Homo sapiens: one gene and its partners. The protein of the gene in region 3 interacts with the protein of the main gene of each other region in a pairwise test. Each region holds a gene or a part of one and is shown on either strand. Other genes may lie near its edges.

The links.
Region 1: the proteins of PRPF40A (region 3) and FAM9A interact in binary tests that used the Homo sapiens proteins (3 or more experiments, as listed by UniProt).
Region 2: the proteins of PRPF40A (region 3) and PLIN3 interact in binary tests that used the Homo sapiens proteins (3 or more experiments, as listed by UniProt).
Region 4: the proteins of PRPF40A (region 3) and SLFN12 interact in binary tests that used the Homo sapiens proteins (3 or more experiments, as listed by UniProt).

Annotation. Positions count from the first base shown.
Region 1 is NC_000023.11:8,798,384-8,806,890, reverse strand, and holds the start of FAM9A (protein FAM9A), read left to right. Parts: upstream 1-5,507; 5' UTR 5,508-5,580; exon of another isoform or gene 5,581-5,651; intron 5,652-6,681; 5' UTR 6,682-6,719; coding exon 6,720-6,810; intron 6,811-7,796; coding exon 7,797-7,925; intron 7,926-8,411; coding exon 8,412-8,507.
Region 2 is NC_000019.10:4,864,251-4,872,951, forward strand, and holds the start of PLIN3 (perilipin-3), read right to left. Parts: upstream 3,418-8,701; 5' UTR 3,359-3,417; intron 1-3,358. UniProt on the Homo sapiens protein: Structural component of lipid droplets, which is required for the formation and maintenance of lipid storage droplets. Required for the transport of mannose 6-phosphate receptors (MPR) from endosomes to the trans-Golgi network.
Region 3 is NC_000002.12:152,657,813-152,665,660, forward strand, and holds part of PRPF40A (pre-mRNA-processing factor 40 homolog A), read right to left. Parts: intron 6,441-7,848; coding exon 6,326-6,440; intron 6,168-6,325; coding exon of another isoform or gene 6,156-6,167; coding exon 6,064-6,155; intron 5,960-6,063; coding exon 5,843-5,959; intron 5,361-5,842; coding exon 5,223-5,360; intron 4,887-5,222; coding exon 4,791-4,886; intron 1,545-4,790; coding exon 1,458-1,544; intron 1,378-1,457; coding exon 1,281-1,377; intron 1,198-1,280; coding exon 1,136-1,197; intron 209-1,135; coding exon 77-208; intron 1-76.
Region 4 is NC_000017.11:35,409,779-35,415,705, forward strand, and holds the end of SLFN12 (ribonuclease SLFN12), read right to left. Parts: intron 2,150-5,927; coding exon 1,560-2,149; 3' UTR 1,144-1,559; downstream 1-1,143. UniProt on the Homo sapiens protein: Ribonuclease which is part of an E2/17beta-estradiol-induced pro-apoptotic signaling pathway.

The DNA of each region.
Region 1 (8,507 bases), on a different chromosome or scaffold from region 3:
TTGCTGTAGGGACTTTGTACAGTGTAGGGTGCTTAGTGGATCCCTGGTCTCCACCTGCCAGATGCCAGTAGCCTGCCCCCCTCCCCAGTTGTAACAGCAAAAACTAGACCTGGCCAAATATCCCAGGGAGGGGGCACAAAGTTGCCCCTGATTGAGAACCACTGACGTGCAAAAATAAAACCTATATTATCTCTTGGCTTATACCCCAAGATATTGTGCCCAAATATCTTCAACTTTATCTCCTAAAACTATAACTCACACAGACTCTGGAATCTCTTATAGTTCTACAAAAGATTTACTCTTTCCAAGTATACCCCACCTTTGATGACTCCCAGACTAAAGTGCCCCATTTTTCTACTTTTTGTCCCCATTTTCTACTGGAATACCTTTTTGTCCTTATCCTTCCAAACTAATCTCAGATAATTTCTCCTGTTGTAAAATCTTCCCTGTCAACACTAAAGATAATTTGTCCTTCTTCCTTATGGATCCTACATCACTTACTATCTATTGTAGCACTTGTCACTGTAATTTCTTCTTTTCACAAATGTTTTAACCTGACCACTACTACCACCTACTTACAACTTTTTGAGTTTAGAAAAGAGATTCTATATACTTAGCATGTAGTACAATGCCCAACACATACTAGGAGTCTTGACAGCTATTAGATAGACGAATAAGGGAATGACTGAATGAGTGAATGAATGAATGACGTCACATCCTTCTCTCCCCGGCATGGAAATATGTTGCATGTTCTGCATGCAGAGTGAGTTGCCGGCTTCATGTCAAGAGGGAATCCCCCTTTAAGAAGAGAATCTGAGCTGCTGTTCCTGAAACTTCCTGAAATCCCACCTGTTCCTGAAACTTGCTCTATTGAGACTTGAGTTTCAACTTGATGCTAGAGAAAGTTGTTAAAATTTATTTTTTTAATTCATTGATGGATGCATCTCTAATGTCCCAGTCATAAAAATAATCTTATATTTAACAAATCCCAGTTATAAATATTTTGCGTGGGGCTCTGCTTAGCATCTTGATGTAAAATTTATACCTAAGTCTATTTTGGCAAACATCAAATTAAACTTGTAAGTATAAAGGAAATCAGAGTGTCCTTGACCTCCCAAGGCTTAGATGATCAGCAGTTTTTAAATGACATTCCTTGAAAGCGAACTTTGATTTTTTAAGCACTGGGCCTGAGGCTGTAATCAAAGGCACTGATGATATTTAGATGATTTAGAAGAGCACAAGCTGATCTGCCATCATTCAGCTTGCAGGATACATTTATCTTCTGTAAGCAGTATGAAACACCTTTGTTTTTGTATTGATTCTATTCCTTTAGAAAATTATAGGTTTTGTCTTGTTATGTTGCCTACAGTCAAAAGAAACGATTATGGAATTTACAATTACAGGAAGGAGGTCATTAAAGCGGGCCAGGTTGGTTTTATCGAGGCTCTGCTTTACTTCTATTGGAACAATTTTATGCACGCAACAGCACATCAAATAGAATGCACCAGAGGATGATTTTAGGAACTTAGTTAAAAGCCCTCTCAGGATTTTGCATACATTTTAAATAATACTCAGCTAAACACATAATCACATGTTTCTCATATACTTTCAAAAATCCCATATGGTTAGAAATTGCTGCCAGATTTCCCTGTGTTGATAAACAGAATGACATTTAATTAAACAGTCCTGAAAAATACTTTCTTTCTTGACTTTATACTCAGACAAGTTAATAAAGTCCCCATTTCAGATGACGAAATGACACATTGCCTGCTCCTATTCCAGTTTTCTGCCTCAAATGTCTTCCTGGAGAGACTCCATGTATGCCAGCCTTCTCAAGGATTTAAGAGTATTAAACCAAGGTTAGATGGTAGCTAGTGTTCTTTGATCTCACTGTACACATTGTTATTCATTTTTTTCTTCTTCTTTTCTTTTCTTTTTTTTTAGATATGGCGGTCTCACTATGTTGGCCAGGTTGGTCTTGAACTCCTGGCCTCAAGCAATCCTCCCACCTCAGCCTCCAAAGTGTTAGGATTACAGGTGTGAGTCACCACACCTGGCCTGGTTGGTATTGATTTTTAAAAAGTGATTTGTTACTTGTTGTCCATGAAACTTGGTGTGCTCTAAATAGGTTGTTTGTTTCACTACATGACATTCCATATACTTACCATCAATTCCAATTAATAGGAATTCCAATAGAATGGCTGAAACAAATTGAGTAGAACAATTACTAACTCCTTTAGACATTATTATGTTAGGCTGAACTATTTTCTACACTGGCTCTATCTATGGGTCATTGCATCTGGCTATTTAGATGGCAAGGAAATGTAATTGAACCAAAAATCCTAGTCATTGAGCAACGGGCTGTTTTTGTTTTGCTTTTTACCTGCCAGCTGGTTCCTCATCTTTGAGGTTTGCCCTGACAGCTCTGAAGCTTGGGTAATATACAACAATATAGACAAAGTAAGGAAATAATTAGGTTGTATGATAGTAATACATTCCCATCCTGAAAACCACAGTTTTAAAATATTCCTATTGTTTCCCCTGTCCTCTGCTCATTTGACAGTTACCAGGAGCTTTGGGCAGACGGGGAGAGAAGTGCATATGTTGTCATCTGACGCTCTGCTGCCTCCATAGCCCATGTTAGCAATTAGCATGGTGTAGATTAAGTACAACTACACAATAGTCATCAATTCCCAATGTTATCGATACATTAGAAAGGGGCTCTGATTTCCAATTAAGTACTGAATAATTGAAAGAAAAATGTGTTGTTGCAGGTTGTTGAGAAACACCTCTACCTCCATTTACCCTTTCATTAAGAAACAGGGATAAAAAATATTGCGATATCAGGATATCTAGAATTTGGAAGATGTGGAATCATCCTGATGAGTCCAAGGACAATCCAGAAAATCAGCTGTGATTCAGACTCCGGTGTGCCCCGTGGAGGCCATGGGTCATCCAGGAGCCTTGTATACCTGGAGGATGAGGAGCCACCTGGGGGGAATTCATTCTAAGGTAAAAAAATGTCATCCTGGCATAGTGACTTCGACCCAGTTCAAAAGCCCGCGTTGTTGAAGAGGAGCCGAATTCTAGGCATGGTGTGTTTACAGTGAGTGCTGTGTTTCCCAGATTTTCCATCCACAAGGATCTGAACTTTTTAGGAAGAGAGAGAGAGAGAGAGAGAGAGAGAACTCAGAATAACAGCTGAATGAGCCACTCTTTGAGAGTGCAGTAGTAGGTTAGCTCAGCAGGTCTGTGTTGTCCAAACCCTGCACTTTCCAAAGAAAGGTCTGTTCTTTGACAGCCTTCCAGGGGATAACCTCTAAACCCTTGGAATATCCTGCCTGATCATAACGTGTTTGTTTACCTGGAGCTTTGAGTCATGCTAGACAGTTAATGCTGATGATTTATAGTGGGGGCTTTGGGCCACCTGTATCAGTCTTGACCTCTGGAGGGGCTGGTGACTAATTTCGGTCATGCAGACAGTCGGCCATGCCTACATGCTCCCAAAACCACACTGGATGTCAGGCTTGGGGGAGCTCCCTGGGCAGCAATGTTCTGTGCAGGTTTCCTCACATCACTGCTGGGAGAATTAAACATCATTTGGTTCCATTTCCCAGCTGCTGAAAAACTGTAATGTTGGGAAGAAATTAATAATTCAGCTTAAATCCAAAGGAAGAATGTTGATTGTGTAGATTTTGTAGAATTTTTTTTAAAATGTTGAGGGAAGAAGGGAAGACCAACTATGTAGAAAAGGGAGCCTTTATTATGAACACACAACTCTTTAAAACAAGTGAAGTAATACCCATGTAGAATAAAAGCAAAGAAAAAAGAAACAATTCAGATAATCATCACATAAGAACACTTATATGTTTTATTTTATCTTATTTTATTTATTTTATTTTATTTTGAGACAGAGTCTCCTTGTGTCACCCAGGCTGGAGGGCCATGGTGCGATCTTGGCTCACTGCAACCTCCGCCTCCTGGGTTCAAACGATTCTCGCGCCTCAGCCACCCAAGTATCTGGGATTACAGGCGTGGTGCCACCCAGTTTTTTTTGTAATTTTGGTAGAGACGGGGTTTCACCATGTTGGCCAGGGTGGTCTCGAACTCCTGGCCTCCAGTGATCTGCCCGTCTCAGCCTCCCAAGGTGCTGAGATTACAGGCATGAGCCACTGCACCCAGCCACTTACATGAAACATCTGACTGCATTGCTGAATTCAAAATATCTGAATATGTTATACAGAAAAATGTTTTGGAAATCTAATGAAAATTAATAACGAAATACAATGTTCTACTTACAGTCATTGTTGACTTATCTTAATAATTTGTTTGTTTTGTAATGTGACAAAATAGATCTATATTGTTCATCTTGTCAAAAATATTTATGTGCAGAACTGTATTTTAAAACAAGCAAGTACAAAAGGAAATAAATTAAAGTACACGAATATTTTATTACCTCTCAAAATAGCCTGACTTGAAAAGACCATCACTCCATGGCCAATGGATCTACTTGATCCTGAAATAACCGAGAGTGGGGTGTATCTGTTACTATCAGCAGGTCAACCTTACAGCAACAAGAAGAAAGGCCTTTGACAACCTGATGGTCACTCCTGGGATTTCTATGGCTAACTTAAGTGGCAAGAACTAGCAGGAAACTAGTTGACTTTTTTTGAAGAAAGAAATGACAAAAGTTTCTCAATCAGTACCTTTTAGTCATCATTTCTTGGAAACAACTATACATCATACAGTTGATGCCTTTAAAGACACGACTTTGGGTATGGGCTCAGTGGCTCATGCCTGTAATCCCAGCACTTTGGGAGGCTGAGGCAGGTGGATCACTTTGATGTCAGGACTTCGAGACCAGCCTGGCCAACATGACGAAACCCCGTCTCTACTAAAAATACAAAAATTAGCCGAGAATGGTGGCACGCACCTGTAATCCCAGCTCCTTGGGAGGCTGAGGTGGGAGAATCGCTTGAACCCGAGAGGTGGAGGTTGCAGTGAGCCAAGATCTTGCCACTGCACTCCAGCCTGGGCGACAGAGAGAGACTCCGTCTCCAAAACAAACAAACAAGCAAGCAAAAAACATAAAAGCACAATCCATTGATAAAAAGGGTGCAGCTGGACATGGTGGAAACACACAGGGCATGGGAGGGAGCCTGGGCTCCACCTGCAAGGCGAAGGCCATTCTAGCCAAAGGGGCAGGGGTGGCTGGAAGGAGCTCGGGGGCGAGGTCCTAGGCCCCGTCCACTTGGCTTCCATCCCGAGTCCTTGCATCCCTCCCCAGGAGGAGGCGCTGAAAACTTCTGGGGACAGAGGCCCCAAAGAACCACCACCCACCCCAGTCCACAGCAAATATGGGTGGTCCCTTACGGAAAGAGGGAAGGCGTGTCAGCAGGGGTCGTGGCCCCCAAGGTCCTTCACCCGCATGCGCATGCGCACTTAGCTGACCAATCAGAGAGGAGCGTGGATAGCCAGGGCAGCTGCTCTCGCGAGAACTGAGGACCCATTTTTCTAAGAGAGCGTCGTGGTGCCAGTGCCTGCAGGTTCTGTGAGGAAGCGGCATCAGGGGTCCCTCAGGTGAAGCGCTCGCGGTGGGGAGGCAGGAAGTCGAGCATGCGGCCCTCTCGCAACCAGGGTGTGAAGCGCAGGTGAAGCGCTCGCGGTAGGGAGGCAGGAAGTCGAGCATGCTGCCCTCTCGCAACCAGGGTGTGAAGCGCTGAGCGGCCGGCTGACCTGCACACGGGCAGCCCGAGACCCCTGGCCCCTTCTTGGCTTTGGAGTCCACCATGCACGTGCTAAGAGGCCCCAGGTTTTCAAAGCAGGAAATGGCCCTGGCATCGTTGCCTGGGGCCTGGGTCAGGGCGAGGCCCTGAGGGTGGGCTGGGATGGGCCAGGGCAGGGAGGGAGCTGGAGACACCTGAGTGATCCCCAGGGCCCAGGAGTGTCCCCGGGACTTGTGCATGTGTGCAGTGGGTAGGGGTGGGGCAGGGGAGGGGGGCTTGGGGGAATGGAGGGGGTGGAGAGGGGAGCAAGGGAGGGGTGGTGGCAGAGGGTGGAGGGTCGGGGAAGTGGCAGACAGGCAGGGGCCGGGTGTGGGGCCAGGGATGGGGGCAGGGGAGGGGAGGGGTGTGGGGTTCGTGGGGTGAGGGGATGGGGGAAGGGGAGGAGGAGGGGCGGAGTGTGTGGGGAGGCGACAAGCAGGGGTGTTGTGGGGGACAGTTCGAGTGGGTCCCTCCAGCCCGGCCGCCCGTCAGGACAGGACACTTGGGGTCACGAGGGGTCACCTGGGCATCCAGGCAGGCAAGTGGCAGTGCAGCCCCTGACATTCCCCCAGAGATGGCTGGGGAGGTCCTGTGACACCCGTGGTCCTCCGGGCCACGCAGGTCTCTGGGGCACACAGGGGCAGGGCTGAACTCTGTCCCAGGGACACCGCAAGGATCCTGCAGGGGCCATTCAGGTGTGCGAGGCAGCTGTGAGTTCTGCAGCCAGCCCCAGGGACGGGCTGGACGGGCCACGAAGGATAGGAGGGGACACTGGCATCTTCTCCGACCCCTCCTGCTCCCACAGGATACACGGGGTGGGCCAGCCCCACCCTTTCTTGAATCCGAGATCCCGTTGGCTCTCCTTTCACATATCCTGTTTCCTTAGCTTACTTAGTTTGACTTTGCACTCAACCAGGTTCAGGGATCGCCTCTAACTTCCCAGGACAGCCAACCATGGAGCCCGTGGGCAGGAAGCGCAGCAGGAAGGCTGCCAAAGCTCAGTTGGAAGCTCAAGTTACGGCCGCCCAGGGGGCCACGAAAGAAGGTGCACGCCCAAGGAGATGGTCTGTTTGCTCTCTGCGCGGGGGGCACATGGGCAGCCCGAGACCCCTGGCCCCTTTGTGGCTTTGGAGTCCACCATGCACGTGCTAAGAGGCCCCAGGTTTTCAAAGCAGGAAATGGCCCTGGCATCGTTGCCTGGGGCCTGGGTCAGGGCGAGGCCCTGAGGGTGGGCTGGGATGGGCCAGGGCAGGGAGGGAGCTGGAGACACCTGAGTGATCCCCAGGGCCCGGGATTGTCCCGGGGACTTGTGGATGTGTGCAGTGGGGAGGGGTGGGGCAGGGGAGGGGGGCTTGGGGGAATGGAGGTGGTGGAGAGGGGAGCAAGGGAGGGGTGGTGGCAGAGGGGGGAGGGTCGGGGGAGTGGCAGATAGGCAGGGGCCGGGTGTGGGGCCAGGGATGGGGGCAGGGGAGGGGAGGGGTGTGGGGTTCGTGGGGTGAGGGGATGGGGGAAGGGGAGGAGGAGGGGCGGAGTGTGTGGGGAGGCGACAAGCAGGGGTGTTGTGGGGGACAGTTCGAGTGGGTCCCTCCAGCCCGGCCGCCGGTCAGGACAGGACACCTGGGGTCACGAGGGGTCACCTGGGCATCCAGGCAGGCAAGTGGCAGTGCAGCCCCTGACATTCTCCCAGAGATGGCTGGGGAGGTCCTGTGGCACCCGTGGTCCTCCGGGCCACGCAGGTCTCTGGGGCACACAGGGGCAGGGCTGAGCTCTGTCCCAGGGACACCGCAAGGATCCTGCAGGGGCCATTCAGGTGTGCGAGGCAGCTGTGAGTTCTGCAGCCAGCCCCAGGGAGGGGCTGGACGGGCCAGGAAGGATAGGAGGGGACACTGGCATCTTCTCCATCCCCTCCTGCTCCCACAGGATACACGGGGTGGGCCAGCCCCACCCTTTCTTGAATCCGAGATCCCGTTGGCTCTCCTTTCACATATCCTGTTTCCTTAGCTTACTTAGTTTGACTTTGCACTCAACCAGGTTCAGGGATCGCCTCTAACTTCCCAGGACAGCCAACCATGGAGCCCGTGGGCAGGAAGCGCAGCAGGAAGGCTGCCAAAGCTCAGTTGGAAGCTCAAGTTAGGGCCGCCCCGGCGAAGAAGCACACAGGTAAACACAGCCCAAGGGGCCAGAAAAGAAGGTGCACGCCCAAGAGGACGGTCTGTCTGCTCTTTGCGCGGGAGGCACATGGGCAGCCCGAGACCCCTGGCCCCTTCGTGGCTTTGGAGTCCATTGTGCATGTGCCAAGAGGCCCCAGGTTTTCAAAGCAGGATCGAGGGCCTTAGGCTTCCCGTGGGAGGCTCCCCCTCATAGCAGGGTTACAGATGCTCGCAGAGCAGCTCTTCTCCATGGATGCGGTCCTGACATCCAAGGGGTCTGACTTGTGAGCGTTGTTTACTAGGACTTGAACCGGAAGGGCTTCCAAAAATGCCTCGGTAAAACGGTCCGGAGCCCAGTGATTCCATGCATAGCTCTGCTTTAAAGCTTTAATTGGTAGAGAGCCAAAAAAGTCCACAAATAATAAGTTTCTCTACAAAAGATGTCCACAACAGCGTCTTCCTCTAAAAATGGTTTGTCTTTTACATTTTAATGCAGGAAAGGATCCAGTCCGTGATGAATGTGAGGAAAGAAACCCTTTTACAGAAACAAGGGAGGAAGATGTAACTGATGAGCATGGGGAAAGAGAACCTT
Region 2 (8,701 bases), on a different chromosome or scaffold from region 3:
CAAGCGATTCTCCTGCCTCAGCCTCCTGAGTAGCTGGGATTACAGGTGTGCACCACGTCTGGCTAATTTTTTGTATTTTTAGTAGAGATGGGGTTTCACTATGTTGGTCAGGCTGGTCTTGAACACCTGACCTCGTGATCCACCCGCCTCAGCCTCCCAAAGTGCTGGGATTACAGGATGAGTCACTGCACTCAGCCGTGGTTTGTTTTTTTTTTTGTTGTTGTTGTTGTTTTGTTTGTTTGTTTTTTAGTAGATGGGGTTTTGCCATGTTGCCCAGGTTGGTCTTGAACTCCTGAGCTCAAGGGATCTGCCCACCTTGGCCTCCCAAACTGCTAGGATTACAGCTGTGAGCCACCGCACCCAGCCAAAATTTAGGCTTTTTTTAAAAAGTGAGATAACATGCCTGCCTGCACCGCAGAGCTATGAAGTCCAGGTCAGGGGTGTGGGGAGGACGGGGTTCCCCAGGTGAGTCTATGTAAGCGGGATGAAGCCACAACTCCCTTTTCCTGGACTAGTGAAATGAAGCTGGGACACCATCATCAGAAGAGATTCTCAGGGGGAAGCCAGGAGTCCCAGCTCCACCTACGCTATGCTCCCTGGAGCAAGGCGCCTTCCCCTCCTCTGGCCTCGGTCATCTTACCTGTAATATGAGGCTAAAGGGTCGGGCATGGTGGCTCACACCTGTAATCCCAGCACGCTGGGAGGCTGAGGTGGGTGGATCATGAGGTCAGGAGTTCAAGAGCAGCCTGGCCAACATACTGAAACACTGTCTCTACTAAAAATACAAAAATTAGGTGCGGGTGTGGTGGCGGGCGCCTGTAGTCCCAGCTACTTGGGAGACTGAGGCAGGGGAATTGCTTCAACCTGGGAGGCGGAGGTTGCAGTAAGCCAAGACTGCGCCACTACACTCCAGCCTGGGTGACAGAGGAAGACTCCATCTCAAAGAAAAAAGAAAAAGCCAGGCATGGTAGCTCACGCCTGTAATCCCAGCACTTTGGGAGGCTGAGGCGGGCAGATCACCTAAGGTCGGGAGTTTGAGACCAGCCTGACCAACATGGTGAAACCCCATCTCTACTAAAAATACAAAAATTAGCCGTGTATTTTGGCTGACACCTGTAGTCCCAGCTACACAGGAGGCTGAGGCAGGAGAATTGCTTGAACCTGGGAGGTGGAGGTTGCAGTGAGTCGAGATCGCACCACTGCACTCCAGCCCGGGTGACAGAGGGAGACTCCGTTTCAAAAAAAAAAAAACATGGGGCTAAAGGTCATGCCTGTCTTATGGGCTGCTTTCCTGGGGAATTCTGGTGTGAGCCTAAGAACCTGTGGCCTTGAGTCTGAGCATCTTTTCCCAGAGGAATGAGGCCCCACCTCCTGGTGGCCTTGCTTCGATGTCCCCTAAGCAGAACCCAGCAAAATGATGATGTTTTGCAAGCACTAGATCTGGAGTCCAGATTGGGTTCTTTCCATTTTTTTTTTTTTGTTTTTTTTTTTGAGACGGAGTCTCGCCCTGTCGCCCACGCTGGAGTGCAGTGGCGCGATCTCAGCTCACTGCAAGCTCTGCCTCCCCGGTTCACGCCATTCTCCTGCCTCAGCCTCCCGAGTAGCTGGGACCACAGGCGCCCGCCACCACGCCTGGCTAATTGTTTGTATTTTTAGTAGAGATGGGATTTCACCATGTTAGCCAGGATCGTCTCGATCTCCTGACCTCATGATCCGCCCGCCTCGGCCTCCGAAAATGCTGGGATTACAGGCGTGAGCCACCATGCCCGGCCTTTTTTTTTTTTTGAGACAGAGTCTTGCTCTGTCGCCCAGGCTGGAATGCAGTGGCGTGATCTCAGTTCAGTGTAACCTCCATCTCCCAGGTTCAAGCGATTCTCCTGCCTCAGCCTCCAGAGTATCTGGGAATACAGGTGCCCGCCACCACGTCCGGCTAATTTTTATATTTTTAGTAGAGGTGGGGTTTCACCATGTTGGCCAGGCTGTTCTCCAACTCCTGACCTCAAATGATCCGCCCACCTCAGCCTCCCAAAGTGCTGGGATTATAGGCGTGAGTCATCCTGCCCAGCCCAGAATGGGTTCTAATCCCAGCTTGGCAACTCACTAGGAATAGGAGTTTGGGAAGGCAGCATCCCCTAGGAGTCTTGCTTGCCACATCTGTGAAATGTGTATAAGTGTTTCACAAGAGCCTGGAGTCCCTGTGGACTGGAGGAGACGCTGCTCCGGGGAAGCTCAGATCCGTGCCCGGCACATAGTAAGTGCTCCATAAACTATCTCACCGCACTCTGGCTTCCACGGACAAAGGGGTAAAGCCAGCCAGGAACCAGCTTCCTGCTAGGTACAAAAGTCCCCCAACTGGGAAGTCAGGTGAGAAGACATACCTACCTCCCAGTGATCATTGCCTAAATCTGTGCTTCTCCTCACCTCCTTTGGAGCCTGAGCTCACCTGGGCAGGGGGCCAGGTAGGCAGGCATCAAACTCCTGGCCTCGACCGATTCTCAAGTCCCACTTAGGACTCAGGCAGCTTCCTCCCGTCCCCTCTGTCCACCATGACTTCCTGGAACTGGTTTAAGCAAGGGTGGCCATGGCAGATGTCAACACCCTATGAAACCCCTGGGGGTCAGTGACCTGCCTTGCCGCTGGCTCCAGAAGGGGAGCTCCAGGCCAGACCCAGCCATCCAGCAACTTCAGAGCATGCTAAGACTGGACTTCCAAAATTCCAAGGGCCCCAGGTCCCACTGCCAGGCCTAGCCGGGACAAGAACCCCAAAGCAGTTAACGGATAGGCCTTCCTACTTTTAAGCCACCTCGTCGCCACGCCCACCCGAGGGAAGTGGGCAGGCTTTGCCCAAGACCTCCCCAGAATCAGTTGGGGGCGCCAGGAGCTGGGGCAACCCCCACCCCCACCCGTGGCAAAACCATCTGTAGGGGAGGGGGCTTTGCGGTGGCGGGGGGTGTCTCTGAAAACCCCAGAAGGGAGGGCGGAGATTCTGCCCGCAGGAGGAAACTTGCCTGCAAATGGCGTTTCCAAAAGCAAACTGTTCAAAATTTAGAGAAAACCTGGTGGGCGGGGGGCGGTATTTAGCCCACCCCCTTCAATATCACCCCTTCTACGGGGCTCTTTCGCCCCTCAAAAGTCCCAGGAAGTGAGAAGAGGGTTTCAAAGTCTGAGCTTCGTTGCAGAAGTTGGATTTTTCTGGGGGGAGGGGTGACCAGCCTGGGCTGAAGACCCCTCCCCAGGCCGCAGAGTCCAGCAAATCCCACCCCGAGAAAGGCCCTCCCCGACCCCTCCGGCCCCTGGGGTGCCCCAGGACTCCATGGACACCGCCCCCCAGCTCAACTGAGACGCCCCCGCCACTCACCGCGGTCAACCGGACGTCCCAGGAACAGCTGCCGCGACTTCAAAACCAGCTTGGAAACCGTCCGGGCCGAGGCGGGGGTGGCTTTTACTGCGTGGTAGGTTGGGGGCGCACTGGAGTGACGGGCGAGGGGACCAATCAGGTTGAGGGATTGCCCGCGCCAGGCCCGCCCCTCTCCTCCCTGCCCCGCCTCCACTAGGCCCCGCCCCTCGCCAAGTCATGAAGTCCGGGAAGGACTCCACGCCCTGCCCCTGAAGGGGAGGGAGCACTCTTGGACCACGCCTGTCCCAGCCACGGGACCCCCGCTCCGCAGCTGGGGACCCTGTGAAGTTGGCCCTGGGAGGTGAGTGCGATCGGGGGCGCCGCACAGGTGCTGGGATTCCCCAGGTCGCCCATTTCCCCTATGGCCAAACTGAGGCTGCGAGAACCCTGGGAGAGTTGCAGGGTGACCCTCGCCAGCGCGTCAGGGGCCACGCCCTCCACCATGGGCTCCGACTCAGCTATATGTACACACACACACACACACACACACACACACTTTTTTTTTTTTTTTGAGACACAGTCTCGCTCTGTCGCTAAGGCTGGAGTGCAGTGACGCGACCTTGGCTCACTGCAGCCTCCACCTCCTGGATTCAAGCGATTCTCCTGCCTCAGCCTCCTGAGTAGCTGGGATTACAGACACGTGCCACCACGCCCGGCTAATTTTTTGTATTTTTAGCAGAGACGGGGTTTCACCATGTTGGTCTTGAACTCCTGACCTCAAGTGATCTGCCCGCTTGGGCCTCCCAAATTGCTGGGATCACAGGTATGAGCCACCGCACCCGGCCCAACCCAGCTATATGAGTGACTTGAACCACCACGGGAACTTGTCCAGCCTCCGGCCTGATCTGCCCAACATCAGACCACTTCATCCTCCCAGCACTGTATTGTCTTTTTAATCATCCCTATTTTGCAGAGAAGGAAACTGAGGCCTGGAGAGGGTCAGCCAGGGGCAATGGAGGGGTCAGGCTCCAGGCTCTGTGACTGCTGGATCAACCTTTTCCTGAAGCTGCCCCCACTTGGATTTTACCCCGCCCCTCTCCACCTCCCAAATTATTTATCCTCTTGGTCTATAAACCAAGGTCTCAATCTCAGATGGTCCAGGGAGGAGGTGAATATTTCTGCTGAGGAGGTGGCAGTGATGCCCTGCTTAGAGGGGCAGGGGAGAGCAGTGCCCTATGGGAGACCCACCTGGAGAGTCACAGATCCACAGGAAGTTCAAGCTGTAGACATGTCCTGCCTGTTAGGGAACAATTGGACCAAATGAAACCCAACTGGGGCTTTGTCCAGCCCAGGGGCCACCAGTTTGCCACCTCTGCCAAATTATTTGAATAGAATGAAGCTTCTGGTAGCTTTAGAAAGAACATGGGAAAAATTGGGTGTCTGTGACTGCATTTTTTTGGGGGGGTGAGTGGGGACAGGGTCTATGCTAGCACTGTCCAATAGAACTTTCTGCAATTCTAGAATTGTGTGCCATCCAACATTGTAGCCAAAAGCACCACGTGGCTAATGCACAGTGAGAAGCTGAATGTTTAAATTTTTTTTTTTTTTTTGAGGCAGAGTCTCGCTCTGTCTCCCAGGCTGGAGTGCAATGGCGCGATCTCGACTCACTACAACCTCCACCTCCCGGGTTCAAGCGGTTCTCCTGCCTCAGCCTCCCAAGTAGCTGGGATTACAGGCGCGCGCCACCACACCCAGCTAATTTTTGTATTTTTAGTAGAGACGAGGACTAACCATATTGGCCAGGCTGGTCTCGAACTCCTGGCCTCAAGTGATCCACCTGCCTCGGCCTCCTAAAGTGCTGGGATTACAGGTGTGAGCTACCGCGCTTGGCCTGAATGTTTAAATTTAAGTAACTTCAGGCAGCTAGTGAGATTCTCAAGTGAATCTGAGACCCCATTCCATGACATTTGTAACAGGCTTTTTCCTTCTCATTCACTCATTCAACCATATTTATTGAGTCCTTGCGCTGGGGACAGCGGTGAGCTAAACAGATAAGAATTCCAGCCCTGGTGACACACACTACCCAGTGGGAGAGACGAACAAGGAACAACATAAGTGAGAGAACTTTACAATGTGTCACGTGGTAGGACAGCAAAGGACGAGATGAATGTGGGGGATGCGGGGATTTTGTTCTTGTTTTTTGTCAAAGAGTCTCACTCTGTCACCCAGGCTGGAGTGCAGTGGCACGATCTCGGCTCACTGCAACCTCCGCCTCCCAGGTTCAAGAAATTCTTGTTCCTCGACCTCCCAAGTGGCTGGGATTACAGGCCTGTGCCACCATGCCTGGCCAATTTTTGTATTTTTTTTTTTTTTAGTAGAGACGGGGCTTCACCATGTTGGCCAGGCTGGTCTCGAACTCCTGACCTCATGTGATCCACCAGCCCTGGCCTCTCAAGGTGCTGGGTTATAGGCATGAGCCACCACACCCGGTGGGGCCGCAGTTTTTAGTAGGGAGGTCAGAGGAGGCCTTTCTGAGTGACATCCAAGAAGAGAAGAGAGAGAGGCCAGGAGGGAACCATGTCCAGTTAGGGGGAACAGCATTCCAGGCAGCAGGCACAGTCCGTGCAAAGGCCCTGAGGCAGGACCACACCCTGCCTGTTAGAACAGTGAGGAGGCCCCAGTGGCTGGAGTACAGTGAGTGAGAGAGAGGGAGGAGGGGAGGGCTGGGATGGCTCAGAGAGGGGAAGTGACTCATCCAAGATTCAAGGTCAGTGGGAGATTTGCCTGTTAACCCTTAACTTCTTAGTGGCCTTGAGTAACAAAATAGCTCTGGTCTAGGGGATGAGCCCTGGTGATTTTGCCCCACACCGTTTTTTGTTGTTTTTTTTTTTTGAGACAGAGTCATCTCCCAGGCTTTTGGTTCTTCTTGATGGCAACATCTGCCCAGGAGTCCCCGCCTGGCCTCCCACAGCCCTAGGGTGAGAGGTAAGAAATAGCTACTGTTGGCTGGGCGCAGTGGCTCACGCCTATAATCCCAGCACTTTGGGAGGCCGAGGTGGGCGGATCACCTGAGGTCGGGAGTTTGAGACCAGCCTGACCAACATGGAGAAACCCCGTCCCTACTAAAAATACAAAATTAGCCAGGTGCGGTGGCGCATGCCTGTAATCCCAGCTAGTCAGGAGGCTGAGGCAGGAGAATCACTTGAACCTGGGAGGCAGATGTTGCAGTGAGCCAGATTGTGCCATTGCACTCCAGCCTGGGCAACAAGAGTGAAACTCTGTTTCAAAAAAAAAAAAAAAGAAAAGAAAAGAAAAAAAGAAATAGCTACTGTTGGCCGGTGGCTCACACCGGTAATCCCAGCACTTTGGGAAGCCAAGGCGGACAGATCACTTGAGCTCAGGAGTTCAAGACCAGCCTGGCCAATATGGCAAAATCCTGTCTCTACCAAAAATACAAAATTAACCGGGTATGGTGACGCATGCCTGTAATCCCAGCTTCTCCACAGGCTGAGGTGGAAGGATCGCTTGAGACTGGAGGGGTGGAGGTTGCAGTGAGCCAAGATTGCACCACTGCACTGCAGCCTGGGTAGCAGAGCAAGACCCTGTCTCAAAACCAAAAATGAGATAGCTGCTGTTTTCTGGGCTATTTCATTACATTATTCAGCAGCCTGATTCCCATTTTCTTTTATTATTTATTTATTTATTTATTTTCGAGATGGAGTTCTGCTCTGTCGCCCAGGCTAGAGTGTAGCCGTACGATCTCGGCTCACTGCAACCTCTGCCTCCCGGTTTCCAGCAATTCTCTGCCTCAGCCTCCCAAGTAGCTGGGATTACAGGAGCCCACCACCACGCCTGGCTAATTTTTTGAATTTTTAGTAGAGATGGGGTTTCACCATGTTGGCCAGGCTGATCTTGAACTCCTGACCTCGAGATCCACCCGCCTCTGCCTCCCAAAGTGTTGGGATTACAGGCGTGAGCCACAGCACGTGGCGCTATTTATTTATTTACTTCTTCTTATTATTATTATTTGAGTCGGAGTCTTGCTCTGTCACCCAGGCTGGAGTGCAGTGGCGCGATCTCAGCTTACTGAAAGCTCCGCCTCCCGGGTTCACGCCATTCTCCTGCCTCAGCCTCCCGAGTAGCTGGGACTACAGGCGCGTGCCACCACACCCAGCTAATTTTTGTATTTTTAGTAGAGATGAGGTTTCTCCATGTTGACCAGGCTGCTCTCAAACTCCTGACCTAAAGTGATCCGCCCACCTCAGCCTGCCAAGGTAAACCAACTGTGATTTCTGTTTTCTGGATCAGGAAACTAAGGATCAGAGAGGCAGAGTAACTTGCCCCAGGTCACACAGCCAGAAATTGCCAGCCCCAGGGTTTGAACCTTGAGTTATGTGTCTTTAAGGTCTTTGGTTTCTGTTTGTTTTGGGGTTTTTTTGTTTTGTTTTGTTTTTGAGAGAGTCTCACTTCGTCTGGAAGTGAGGCTGGAGTGCAGCGGTGGGATCTCAGCTCACTGCAACCTCCGCTTTCCAGGTTCAAGCAATTCTCCTGCCTCAGCCTCCTGAGTAGCTGGGATTACAGGTATGCGCCACCACACCCGGCTAATTTTTGTATTTTTAGTACAGACAGGGTTTTGCCATGTGGGCCAGGCTGGTCTCGAACTCCTGACCTCAGGTGATCCACCCACCTCTGCCTCCCAAAGTGCTGGGATTACAGGCATGAGCCACTGCGCCCAGCAGGTCTTTGTTTTTGACATTTTCTACTCTTTCTCTTCTTTCCTTCCCTCTGCATCCCCTCCCAATTCTAGGACTCCTAATTCTTTCTTTTTTTTTTTTTTTTTTTTTTTTTTTTTTTTTGAGACGGAGTCTCGCTCTGTCACCCAGACTGGAGTGCGGTGGCTGGATCTCTGCTCACTGCAAGCTCTGCCTCCCGGGTTCACACCATTCTCCTGCCTTAGGCTCCCAAGTAGCTGGGACTACAGGCGCCCGCCACCAAGCCCGGCTAATTTTTTGTATTTTTAGTAGAGACAGGGTTTCACCATGTTAACCAGGATGGTCTCAATTTCCTGACCTCCTGATCCACCCGCCTTGGCCCCTCAAAGTGCTCGGATTACAGGTGTGAGCCACCGCGCCCAGCCAGGACGCCTAGTTCTTTCTCACTGAGAAGAGGGGAACGGCGGTGAGCATGCTGCCACAAGGTGGCACTGCTGGTCCCAGATGGGTCCCTGCCTGGCACAGGTGTTCCCTGTCTCTCCTCTGACCCTTCCTTCCCTCCATCCATCCATCCGTTTTTAAGCATGTCCTATTGAGTGTGAGCCAGGCCAGCGATTCACTGGATATGCAGTCATTCAACAAACAATAATTA
Region 3 (7,848 bases):
ACACCATCATGGTTTAACCACAGAATACATTTTTGCATTTTGAAAATACAGGCATGAAACAATTCTAAATACTTACAGAATCCTTTCCAGTCTTTTTCTTAGGCGATTTGTGTTTTGATTCTGATCTTTGTCTAGTTCTGTCTTTTTCACTTTCCCGATCTTTTTCTTTTTTATCCTTCTCTCGCTCAGCATCGGATTCTGGAGAGTCCTGTATGAATAGAAAATAACAGGTTAGCATTTTGATGAAGATACCATTGTTATATAGGTAATATTTAAGAACATCTATGTGTAACAGGTTATGTGCTCTTAGAGAGATGAAATAAAATGTGAATTGTTAACCTCAAGGATTTAGTAAAATTTACCCAAGATTCATGGGGACAGCTTTCCCTTGGGAAGGATAATATTCTGAAGGATAAAATACCACTCATGAGACTTACTACCACATAATAGATGTGTAGTATCTATTATGTAAATACAGACAGATACTACATTTCTCACCAACTCAATATAATATTGGTTTATATATGTACATAGTATACTGCTGTTAGCTTTAACACATAAGGCAGACAGCTGTATTAATAAAATTATTTTCTTGAAATTGCTGAGTAGGAATTATTTAAAATTTAACGTTAGTGCTTAAATGGTTATTCATTAGATATGCACAAATTCAAATAAAAAGAATGTAATTCAACAGGTCTGTGGTGATACCCAGGCCTTCAGATTTTCAAAAAGTTCCTTAGGTGGATCTTAATGTACACCTAAGAATAAGAACTGCAAGAGTAGAGTGGTTGTTTTAACATTTAAACTTGTGGTTCTCAACAACAGCTGCAATCTACACATACACACAAACATACATACATACACAGAGACACATGCACACACACGAGTCTCTTTCTAGAATATTAATTTTAAAGACCAGGATGGGGATCCTAACACTGGTGTGTGTATTTTTTCAAAGCTCAACAATTGATTTTAATGGAAGATTAAGGTGAAGAGCAACAACAAAACTCTAAGTTTATGTGCCCACCTGAACTGTCCTGGGCTGCAGAGAACTAGATAGAAAAAGGTTCTATGATCTCTGAGGAAGTTAAGGGCAAAAGCCTAGGTGAAACGTAAAAATTAGAAGCTTGCTTACAGATTTATGTCTCCTCTTCTTACTTTTCTTCTTATGCTTTTTTGACTTTTTATAACTTCTCTCTGAGTAGCACAAAAGGATAAAAAGTGTCAGACTTTGAGTATATCAGTGTCAATGATTTAATCAAATAAATAGAAATGCTCACCAGACTCTGCACTAGAAGAATGTTCTGAAGCAGAACGAGACTCTGATCGCTGTCTTTTTTTCTTTGAATGGCTATCATCATCATCTGAATCTGACCCCTAAAAAACACAAATAATTTCATTCATAATAATGCTAACACTTTAATACACTCATGACACCATATAATAAATTCCCTTACCGATCGAGAGCGGGAACGTTTCCTATGATGTTTTTTAGATTTCTTAGAATGTTTCTTGTTCTTTGAATGATGATGCTGACATTCATGCTACGGGGACAAAAAAAAAATTTCAAGAATTTACACTTACTGTAGACAGACTGTAAAGAATCTTTAAAAAGCTACGGAAGTAAGTTCTTAGAGTAAAACTCTACAATATATAGAAATGTAATCCCTTGAAACTGTGAAGAATTGTCAATTTTTTTTTCTTTTCCTTCTTGCCCATCCTATACCCACTCATTTAGACATCTAAACAAAACAATGTTAAAAACTGTTAGTAGAAAAAGTAGGGCTTTTTTTGTTTTTGTTTTTTTTTGAGACGAAGTCTCGCTCTGTCACCCTGGTTGGAGTGCAGTGGTGCGATTTTGGCTCAATGCAACCTCCGCTTCCCAGGTTCAAGCAATTCTCCTGCCTCAGCCTCCCAAGTAGCTGGGATTACAGGTGCACACCACCACGCCCAGCTAATTTTTGCATTTTTGGTAGAGGCAGGGTTTCACCGTGTTGGCCAGCCTGGTCTCAAACTCCTGACCTCAGGTGATCCACCCGCCTTGGCCTCTCAAAGTGCTGGGATTACAGCCATGAGCCACTGCACCCAGCTGAAAAAGTTTTTGTTTGTTTGTTTTTTTGAGATGGAGTCTCACTCTGTCACCCAGGCTGGAGTGCAGTGGCGTGATCTAAGCTCACTGCAAGCTCCGCCTCCCGGGTTCACGCCATTCTCCTGCCTCAGCCTCCCGAGTAGCTGGGACTACAGGCGCCTGCCACCATGCCCGGCTAATTTTTTGTATTTTTAGTAGAGATGGGGTTTCACCATGTTAGCCAGGATGGTCTCGATCTCCTGACCTTGTGATCCGCCCACCTCGGCCTCCCAAATGCTGGGATTACAGGCGTGAGCCACTGTGCCCAGCCTGAAAAAGTATTTTTTAAGGAAGAGAATGGTGTGATTTAGAAGAAAAGTGTAATATGCAGTGACATCTGCTTTTAATGACAGTCAAATACAATGACACTCAGACATGGTTTTTGTAATCAATCTGGCTTTGGTCAGCAAGTTAGGCCAAGCACTAAGATAAAGAACAACCTGAGAGCCATCCTTGAATTGAGATATATAAGGCTGATGTCAGAATAAATGCAAAATCTGCTACCCCTCTTTCATTTCCCCCAAGGAGCCATTTCCTTCCTCCTCAAACAAGACATTGTTAGACATCCATATGCTGTCTTTGTGGATTTCTACTTATTAAAACAATTACTAGGTTAGCAGTGATGGGGGGTGCTACAGTACAAGCTCCTTGCCCCTAAACATTTCTATGGCTTTGAGAATAAATTCTACCTCAGTTACAGAAGTGGAAATGGAAAATCTGGATCTCAGAATGGACTATTCTCCTTTTGATCTCACTGAATGCTAACCTACCTTTCTTTAATACCTCAAGCCTCAGATTATTAAGGCCCCAAAATCTGAATGTGTTCAGCCCTTCCCTATGGTACCATTTTTACTCCATTTACCACCTAACTACTTTACCCCCAGTATAGATCATGAAAGAATCTGTAGACTCTTGAACTGGGGGAAAATAGGTTAGTCACTATCTAGAGCAGAGCTTCTCAAAATTAAATGTATATTTTAATGCTTGGGAATCTGGTTAAAATGAAGTCAGACGCAGGATTTCTGCCCCATGGGGCCTAAGGTTCTGCATTCCTAAGAAGCTCCTAGGTAATGCAGATGCTTCTGGTATGCACTACATTTGGCACAGAAAAGATCTAGAGGCCCAGCATGGTTGCTCACACCTATAATCACAGTACTTCAGGAGGCCAAGGCAGGAGACTTGCTTGAGGTCAGCTTGCCCAACACAGCAAGATCCCATCTTTATAAAAACAAAAACCAAAAAAGCCCCACAAAAAGCCAAGTGTGATGGCACGTGCCTGCAGTTCCAGCTACTTAGGAGGATTGTTTGAATCCAACAGTTCAAGGTTGCAGTGACCCATAACTGCACCGCTGCACTCTGGCCTAGGAGTGGATGGATGACAGAGACCCCGCTTTAAAAAAAAAAAAAAAAAGGCCAACAGGACCACATCTAGAGGCAGCTGTGAAACAATACAGGGCCTTCGTGAGTACATGGTACAGAAAAAACTGTGGTTAACATTATATTAATCAAGAACAATAAATCAAGAAATAGGAAATAGTCAATTTAGTGACCTATGCCCATTTACAATGCAACACTGTAATATTAAGCACCTACTAGTTTTTAGCTTATAAAGTATTAGCTACTCTAAAACTGACAGCATGGCATACTTGTTAAAAGCACTGACCAAGGTCAACATGCCCGGCTTCCAACCCTGTAAGTCACTTTACTTCTCTCTGCCTTAGTTTGTTCACCTATTAACTTCACAGGCTTATTGAAAGGATTCAGTTCATAAATATAATATACATAAAGCAATTAGAACACTGGCCCACATAGGCATCGAATACTATTATTCAATAATTATTGGTCAATTCAGCATACTTACAAGGGCCTAACTGAAACTGTCATCAAAATACTTTTTTTTTTTTTTTTTTTTTGGGGAAGGAGTCCCGCTCTGTTGCCCAGGCTGGAGTGCAGTGGCATGATCTTGGCTCACTGCAACCTCCGCCTCCTGGGTTCAAGCAATTCTCTTGCCTCAGCCTCCTGAGTGGCTGGGATTACAGGTGCCCGCCACCACTCCCTGATAATTTTTTTGTATTTTTAGTAGAGACAGGATTTCGCCATGTTGGCCAGGCTGGTTTCAAACTCCTGACCTCAGGTGATCAGCACACACCTTGGCCTCCCAAAGTGCTTGTTTTACAGGCGTGAGCCACCGTGCCCAGTGAACCTTACCTATTAAAGTGACCTGAGATGTTATTGTTTCATTGCTTATTTTAACAAAAACTTACCATTTATTCCATTACTTTCCAGAAACTTTCTTTTCTACACAGCTAATGTGGTATAATACCTCAAATGTGCCTAAAAGCTGTCTTCTATCTGCTTTACAAGAAAAATTTCAAGTTTTCTTTATTAGTCAATCAATCCATGTGGCTGCCAAACTGCTCAATTTCTAAAACTTTCTAAAAATACAAAACAGTCTTCACATACAAATCTTTATATTCCCATGGAAACTTAATAGTTTCTTTTACTTAAAAGCAGTTTTTATAGGAAAAAAACCATTCTCTAACCATCCAGGTAAGTACATTTGTATAAAAGCAGTGAATATTAAGCAACATACTTTCATCATTCTAAGTTCTTCAATTTGTTTATATTTTATATATTTTGTATATGAGAATTCTAAAATTACCTCAAGCACATGCATAAAATCTTTAAATATTCGTTTTCTTTCAGATTCTAGAGTTATGTCCTCAAATGCTGGCTCTTTTACAAATCTCTCACGGATCTGAAAAATTCAGATACAAAATAAATATATGAATACCAAGAAAAGTACAACGATACATCTAAAATAAATCATAACAGCAAGTGAAAACTGTGATGAATCAGTCCCCTTAAAGTCCATTATTTCCTCCCTTCAAAAGTCCAAACCATTCTTTACAAATATTCCTAAACAGAGTCAACAGCTGATTTAATGCTTTTATTATATTCTAAATATATTTAATATATTCTACAAATAAATTTAGCTTATTTTTGTGGCTATAAAATGAAAAATAAAAATATTTTAAATTTCTCAACTGTAAAGAAAAGAATTCCATTAGAAAAAAATAACAAGTATACATACATCTTCCCAGACAGCATCCAATTCTATCGGAGGAGCAGCTTGTTTTAACATACTCTTAAATGCAGATTCTTTTCGTTTCATCTTCCGAGCCTCTTCTTTTTCTCTTTCACGTTCACGGGCTTCTGCCTTTTCTAGTAACTATTAAGAAAATCATATTTAATCAGTTATAATAGTATCATAACTATTAGCTGAAATAATTTATTGTTAATTTAGGAATCACGCATTGTTTAAAACGAGCTTGTCCAACCTGTGGCCCAGGACCGCTTTGAATGTGGCCCAACACAAATTTGTAAACTTTCTTAAAACACTATAAGGATTTTTTGCAATTTTTTTTTTAAGCTCATCAGCTATCGTTAGTGTACTTTATGTGTGGCCCAAGGCCTGATTTATAATGGCCATTTTATGTATAATACCAGTTAATTTGAGCAAAGGAAGTTTAATATCAATCCATCATCTAAATAAAGTTTTTTGTTTTACCTTACCTGAAAGACTGGCTACCACTCTGTAAAATTCTATTCATATTCCCTTATTCCAACACTCTGCAACTTAGCTGCTTTTATCTGAATAAATTAAAAACTATACTACTAAACTAGTTACTTACAACAGAAAACATAACTTACACTATTGAAAGCCAATTTGATATTTCCAGCATCTAATGTAGTTGATCTTTTAGTTGAACTGATTATCGCCACAAAATCTTCAAAAGTAGTGTTTACTTCAACTACAAATCCTTTATCCTAAAAAAAAGAAATCTTAACATTAATAATGCATAAATCAAAGGAATACAGTACTAACTTTTAAGATATACTATTGGTTAAAAGGTAAGAATAAATATATTTACCTTTAGAATGTCTTTTATTATCTTCTTCTCGTCATGATAACGTGCTTTAAGATCCTCAACATAAAACTTGAAAAGATCAAGTGCAGTTGATCCTAATGAAAAAACTAAAGAAGTCAAAAGCTAGCTCTAACCAAAGAGCTGCAATTACTTTGTTGTTTAAAAAACAAAAATAAAGCACCCTTTCCCCCAACACAATCACCTTTGCATTTGGCCCATTTCAACTACTACCATAACGGTAAATTAGGAAAGAAAATAATCTTACCAGGCTGACCAAGCATATTAGTGAATCTAATATCAGAACTAATAGTTGGATACAATTCCATCCAAGATGACATAGAATGCAGTTGTCCATGTTCATGTAATTCATCTAAAAATATCTAGGGAGAAAAATTATATTTGGAAAGTCATCTCGAGTACATGAGAAATAAGCGTCTAACATGAAAACACACAAAAACTTTGACATAGTTAAAACTCTTCTACCAATGTTATCCCAAACCTGTTTGGGCACAAAGAATATTTGCTATTTGGGCAAAGTAACAACTGCCTCTAGGCAAAAAAATATTTTGTCCTTTAGAGAAAATAACTTTTGAAACTGCACATTATCTTCCTAAGGTTCTATTTCCTACCCTTTAAGATAGAACCTAATTTTTAGCTTTAAAAAAAAAAAGGTAAAAGTTAACTTAAATTACTGGATATCTACCTCAAATGATGAGGCTAAAGAATGTATATGCATGTTTCCTTAAATATATACTTTCTGTCTTTAAAAATAGTGCCTAATGTGTTCTAGGTATTTTTATTTACTTTTAAAAAACAAGGGGCCTTAAGAGGAGGATGTATAATTTTCCCAAAGTAGTTTGGAGACCTAGGATTCAAACCCATATCTAGTTTCAATTTCCACACTTCCTGCTTCCAACCCAATCCTCAGGGAGTTTAATCCTATACACCAGGGGATCCCAACCCCCAGCCACGGAACCGGAACCAAGCCACACAGCAAGAAGTGAGTGGTGGAACAAGCATTACCGCCCCAGCTCCACCTCCTGTCAGATCAGTGGCGGCATCAGATTCTCATAGGACTGCAAACCGTATTGTGAACTGAGCATGCCAGGAATCTAGGTTGTGTGGTCCTTATGAGAATCTAATGCCTGATGATACCAACTCCCCACCCCACCCCACCAAGAAAAACTGTCTTCCACTAAACCGGTCCCTGGTGCCAAAAAGGTTGGGGACCGCTGCTATACACAAATGTGCCTAAAAGAAACTGTAACCCTATATTCTGTTCCCACAATTCCTATACCTGCACTGTTCAATAAGGTAGCCACTGACCAAACGTAGCTTCTCGGTACATGAAATGTAGCTAGTCTGAGTTGTGATGTGCTGTTAAGTACAAAATACACAATGATCTTGAAGATTTAATACCACAAATATTAGCAATTTTTAAAAATATTGATGTGTTAAAATAATATCTGGTTATATTGGGTTAAATTACTAAAATAAATAGGAAATTAAAATCGCATTTGTGGCATTCACATTTTTATTGGATAGAGCTGTCCCAAAGTAACATCAGGCACTTACAACTGCACTCACTCCTCTTCAAACAAGACTAAATATGTCCATACTCCCTTACAACTCGGAAATTCTTTTCTCAAACCCTGCCTGTATCTACCCTTCTGTCAACTACCCTTACCCTTCAACATAAATGGAATTTTGTCTTAACCACTCTTGTTGTGCTCACCAGCTTCCTCACTTGCTCCCTGAGTATCTAAAATAGTTTGGAAACCATCTTTA
Region 4 (5,927 bases), on a different chromosome or scaffold from region 3:
TGAGGCTGCTGTTTCTGCATTCATCCTCCCATGGTCACATTTCTTGGCCAACAGAACCACAGAAACTGGTCTGCCATGAGTTAACGTTTAGTCCAAATCATTTTTCCACTTTGGCTCTGCTTCAAATGGGGCTGGGCTGGTGATACTGAAGACAATCAATGCACCTATGAATTCCAGACAATGGGCTCTTGTCATTTTCCCAATCTTTCCTCATCGCAATGTTCCACAGCTGCAGTTGTGCCAAGGCCTCTGAGTCCCAGTGGAGCTCCTTCAGTGCACAGTTCACACAATGGTGAACTGGCTTGGAGATGCCAAGAGGAGTTCTGGTGCACACAGTGTGTGATGATGATGGCCTTGCCTGTGCCCAGGTCACCCATACCGGCAGCTGGTACAGGCTGACACACTGTGCTGGCCACAGTTCAGGGCTGGAGAGAGACTCCAGGAGTGCAAGTATGCTCTCGTTTTAGGTTCTTCATTTTGATTCATCTCTTCATTGGCTGGATTTCATTGTAACATAGTTTTCAAGAAGGTAGAAGAGAACTACGTTCCGTTCCCTATATCCTTTGATAAGAATGTCTGCCTATTTCCTTTATAGTCAAACATCATCTCGTTTGGCAAAATATGTGTTAGTAAAACTTTTCTCAGAATACTGAATGCATTGATCGACTTCCTCTGGCATTGGACACAGTGGTGGAGAAGGCTGAGGCCCTGATGGGTAATTTAGGCTCTATTCTCTGTTCCAAGATCCCACTGAAGGTCTTAGGCATGAATTCAGAACACCCAGCCAAGGGTGTATCCCACTCTGCTGAGCTTCATCTTGGTCCCTTAGCTCATCTTAGATGAGTGGGAAATGCCAGACCCTGGTGCTCCTTCCTCTTGTTGATGAAAACTCTCGTTGTCTAAAAGAGTTTCTACTTATACCTTGGCTGCTTTCCTTCAAATCTTAGTTAGAGAGGATTTTCCATATTTTGTCATCTCACGCTTCTTTATTCAGAACTGCTTGTAGAAAAATAAAGTAACCATTCTTGTGAGTTCTTTAAAGGTGCTAGCTGACCAGTTAGGAAATCCACAACCCTTCCAAGTAAATAGTGTGAAAGTAGCTCAAGAAGATCCAGAGAATTCCTGGAGTTTTGTTTTGAGAAAATGAGTTTTGCCTTCTTATTCATTCCCACTGTGGAAATTCTGAGTTTCATCAAGGATAATCTTTTGTAAGTTATAATTGTTTTCTAGGTATATGCTGGGAGATTTTCACTGTTGTCATTAAGAATAAAAGTGTTGCAATTTTCCCAGTTCAAGCATGGAAGAAAATTTATTCAGGAACTACAGACAGAGTAAATAATACTGTGCACAGACGAGTTAACAAATTAATTTTCCTAATATCCCTCAAACAATATCTGTGAAGATTATTTAGGGAGAAGTGAAAATAGACAAAACCCAATTATCCAACATCACATTAAGTTGCTTAACTTGCAAAGTTTTCAAAGAAATATTTTCACAGAATTAGAGAATGTTATCAAATATATAATGAAAAATATCTCAGTAGCCCAGTCCATTTTCCATCAGGTGAGCCTTCGACAAGATTTAAACATCTTTTTATCATTCTTCTGAAAGCAATCTATACCGATTATCTGGTATAGATTTTCTGCAAAGGAAAACTGGTCTCTCAGAGACTTGAGTCTCTTTAAGGCTTTAAAAAGGGCTTTCAGCAAGTATTTCCTTCTTGTAAAATAGTAGGATTCAGGGTAAATTACTTGCGACCTTAAATCATACTGGCAGCTTGTCATGCCTTCAGGGCTCAAGTAGAAGATCTTTGTCATGACACACACTTTTTTAGTGTAACCACCAATTTTTGCCAGCTTCTGCTTTAAGGTTAGGGCAGTTTGTGTAGAATAGCCTTTAAACTCCTCATCCTGTACCATGTGGAAGGTGTATAGGACTGGAGGACTGTCCTGGGAAATCAGAAGAGCATCACAGAGGACTTTGTGGTTCTCTTGCAAGCCCAGATCCACAGACCAGCTCCTAGAGAAGATCAGTGAGCCCTTTCTGACAGAGTCCATTTCTTCACATATTAATTGCTTAAGTCCTTCATGTTGTAAGAACAGTTTTCTGCAAAGGTTTTCTGGAGTATACGTTATCCTTCCTGATAGCCCTGAATAAGGAAATAATAATAATAAATTATAAAACACTAGGAAGTTCCCATTTAAGCCATGGCAAAGTAGCTTGTAAAAAACCAATCTTCCCATCAAAAACACTGTAAAAGTTGTATAAAATATATTCAAACAATAATTTAAAGAACTAGAAAGCACCAATAAAAGCAGTATTTGAAGTGCCACAGTCTTTGATAGAGGTGAAACACAGAAAGTAGCTTCACATTCACCCCTGCTTTTTCCCTAAGTAGATTTTCTATATCATGGCATGGGTAAATAGAACCCAAGGAGAAATCATCAGTCTTATTAGGCTGAGGAAAAGAAGTAAGAAGAGCTGGAATATGAGAAGTAAAATCTCAGAGAAAATGAAGCTGCAGAGAAGAAGCCAAAGTCTACATACAAATTTCCCTCAACTCATTGGCTAATACAGGTCAGATGCTGGAAACACAGAAGAAAATATCAACTGGGAGACTAAAGAGCTGAATGTAAGTTTCTTCAGCCTCATGGTGCTCAGGAAACACAGACTGGAATTCCAGTCCCAAAAGAGTGGAGGGATCTTGGTAAACACCAGCGACATTACAGCAATAGAAAAGCCATGACCTAGTAGTAACGGCAAAATTAAAAACTATTATACCTAGAAAAGGATAAAAAAACTTCAAAAGAATAAAAGCAATGGGTGGTACTCTAACTACCTGTCAGAAGTAAATATAGCCCTTTTTGGAGAAATGTAATATCTATCAAAGTCTCTACAATTTGTAATCCATGATACAATAAAAAATTACGAGACAGAATAAAAATCAGAATGAATTACTAGAAAACAGGAGAAAAATCAGATCAGAGAAAAAGACTGACAAGTGCTTCAGATATTGTAGTTATCAAAGAGGGACTTTAACTGTAATATATTTAAAAACAAAAAATAATAATAAAATAGATGAAAAGATGAAGATGTCCTTATTCTCTTACAGCCTTAGAAAAACTAAAATTGAGGGATAAAAATTGTGTGGGCATTCCTTAACTGAAAAATACAGTAGGTGGTAATAAGAACTTATTTGATAATATTTAACAGCAGACAGAGCATAGCAGAAAACAGGACTAGTCAATAGGAAGACAGGATGGTAGCAAAAGTCCGAACTCAAACTCAATAAAAAAAAAAAAGGTAAAAACAGAAGATAAGAGATATATCCGAAACTGTCAAAAGGTCTAGCAAATTTATAAGTCCCACAAAGAGAAAGGAGAGAAAAATAAGATAAGCAATATTTGAAGAGATAAACAATTATAGTTTTTTCAAAGTTGATTAAAGATATCACTCACAAATACAAGAGTATACCAATCCTTCTCAGACTCTTCCAAAAAAATTGAAGAGGAGGAAATACTTCCAAACTCATTTCATGAGGTCAACATTACCCTGATCATGAAGTCAGTCAAGGACACTACAAAAAAAAAGAAAGTTACAGGCCAATATCACTGTTGAAACTAGATGCAAAAATTCTCAACAAAATGCTAGCAAACCAAATTCAACAGCACATTAAAAGGATCATTCGGCCCAGTGTAGTGGCTCACGCCTGTAATCCCAGCACTTTGGGAGGCCAAGGCAGGTGGATCACCTGAGGTCAGGGGTGCAAGACCAACCTGGCCAACATGGTGACACCCCGTCTCTACTAAAAATACAGAAAATTAGCCAGAAATGGTGGCAGGCACCTGTAATCCCAGCTACTCGGGAGGCTGAAGTAAGAGAATCGCTTGAACCCGGGAGGTGGAGGTTGCAGGGTGCCAAGATAGCGCCATTGCACTCCAACCTGGGTAACAAGAGTGAAACCATGTCTCAAAAAAAAAAAAAAAGAAAAAAAAAGATCATTCATCATAATAAGTGGGATTTATCCTTGGGATGCAAGCATAGTATAACATGTGAAAATCAATAATTGTGATATACCACATTAATAAAATGAAGGGCAAAACTATATGCTCATATTAACGGATACAGAAAAAGCATTTTACAAAATTCAACATTCTGTAATTTAAAAAAACCTCTTAACCAACTAGGTATAGAAGGAATGTACCTCACCACAGCAAAGACCATATATAAAAAACCTAGAGCTAACTCCATGCTCAATGGTGAAACATTGAAAGCTTTTCATCTAAGATCAGGAACAAAACAAGGATGCCCATTTCACCACTTCTATCCAATATGGAAGTCCTAGCCAGAGCAATTAGGGAAGAAAAAAGAAATAAAAAGAATCCAAACTGGAAAATAAGAAATTAAATTGTCACGGTTTGCCCACAATGTGAACTTATATATAGAAAACCTTAAAGATGCCACCAAAAAATGATCAGAACAAATAAAAGAATTCAGTAAATTTTCAGAATACAAAAATCAGTAGCATTTCCATACACTAACAACAAATTATCCTATAAAGAAATCAAGAAAACACTCCCATTTACAATAGCTACAAAAAATACTTGATAATAAATGTTATCAAGGAGATGAAAGATTTCTATACTGATATCTATAAAATGCTGATGAAGGAAATTGGAAAAGACACAAATAAATGGAAAGATAGCTTGTGTTCATGGATTGAAAAAATCATATTTTTAAAATGTCCACACTACCCAAAGTGATCTACAGATTCAACGAAAACCCTATCAAAATTCCCATGTCATTTTTCACAGAAAAATGACTGTATACCTAGAAAACCCTAAAGACTCATCCAAAAAGCTTCTAGATTTGATAAATGAATTCCATTAAGTTTCAGGATACAAAACCAATGTACACAAATTAGTACTGCTATACAGCAAGAGTGACCAAGCTGAGAATCAAATCAAAACCTCAATCCCTCCGACAACAGCTGCAAAATAAAATAAAATACTTAGCAATATACCTAGACAAGGAGGTGAAAGATCTCTACAAGGAAAACCACAAAACACTGCTGAAAGAAATCATAGATGAAACAAACAAATGGAAACACATCCCATGTTCATGGATAGGTAGAATCAATATTGTGAAAATGACCATACTGACAAAAGCAATCTACATCAATGCAATTCCCATCAAAATACCATCATCATTCTTCGCAGAACTAGAAAAAATAACCCTAAAATTTATATGGCACCAAAAAAGAGTCCACATAGCAAAAGCAAGACTAAGCAAAAAGAACAAATCTGGAGGCATCACATTACCTGACTTCAAATTATGCTACAAAGCTATAGTTACCAAAACAGCATGGTTCTGATATAAAAATAGGCATGTAGACCAGTGGAATAGAATAGAGAACACTGAAAGAAAGTCTAATGCTTACAGTTCAATTGGATCTTCAACAAAACAAGCAAAAACAAAGTGGGGAAAGGACACCCCATGCAACAAATGGTGCTGGGATAATCGGCAAGCCACATGTAGAAGAATAAAACCAGATCCTCATCTCTCACCTTATACAAAAACCAACCCAACAGGAATCAAAGACTTAAATCTAAGACCTGAAACCATAAAAATTCTACAAGATAACATCAGAAAAACAATTCTAGACGTTGGCTTAGGCAAAGAGTTCATAACCAAGAACCCAAAAGCAAATGTAACAAAAACAAAAATAAATAGATGAGAAGTAACTAAACTAAAAGGCTTCTGCACAGCAAAAGAAATAGCAGAGTAAAAAGACAATCCACAGAGTGGGAGAAAATATTTGCAACCTATGCATCTGACAAATGACTGATATCCAGAATCTATGAGGAACTCAAACAAATCAGCAAGAAAAAAACAAAGAATCCCATCAAAAAGTGGGCAAAGGATAT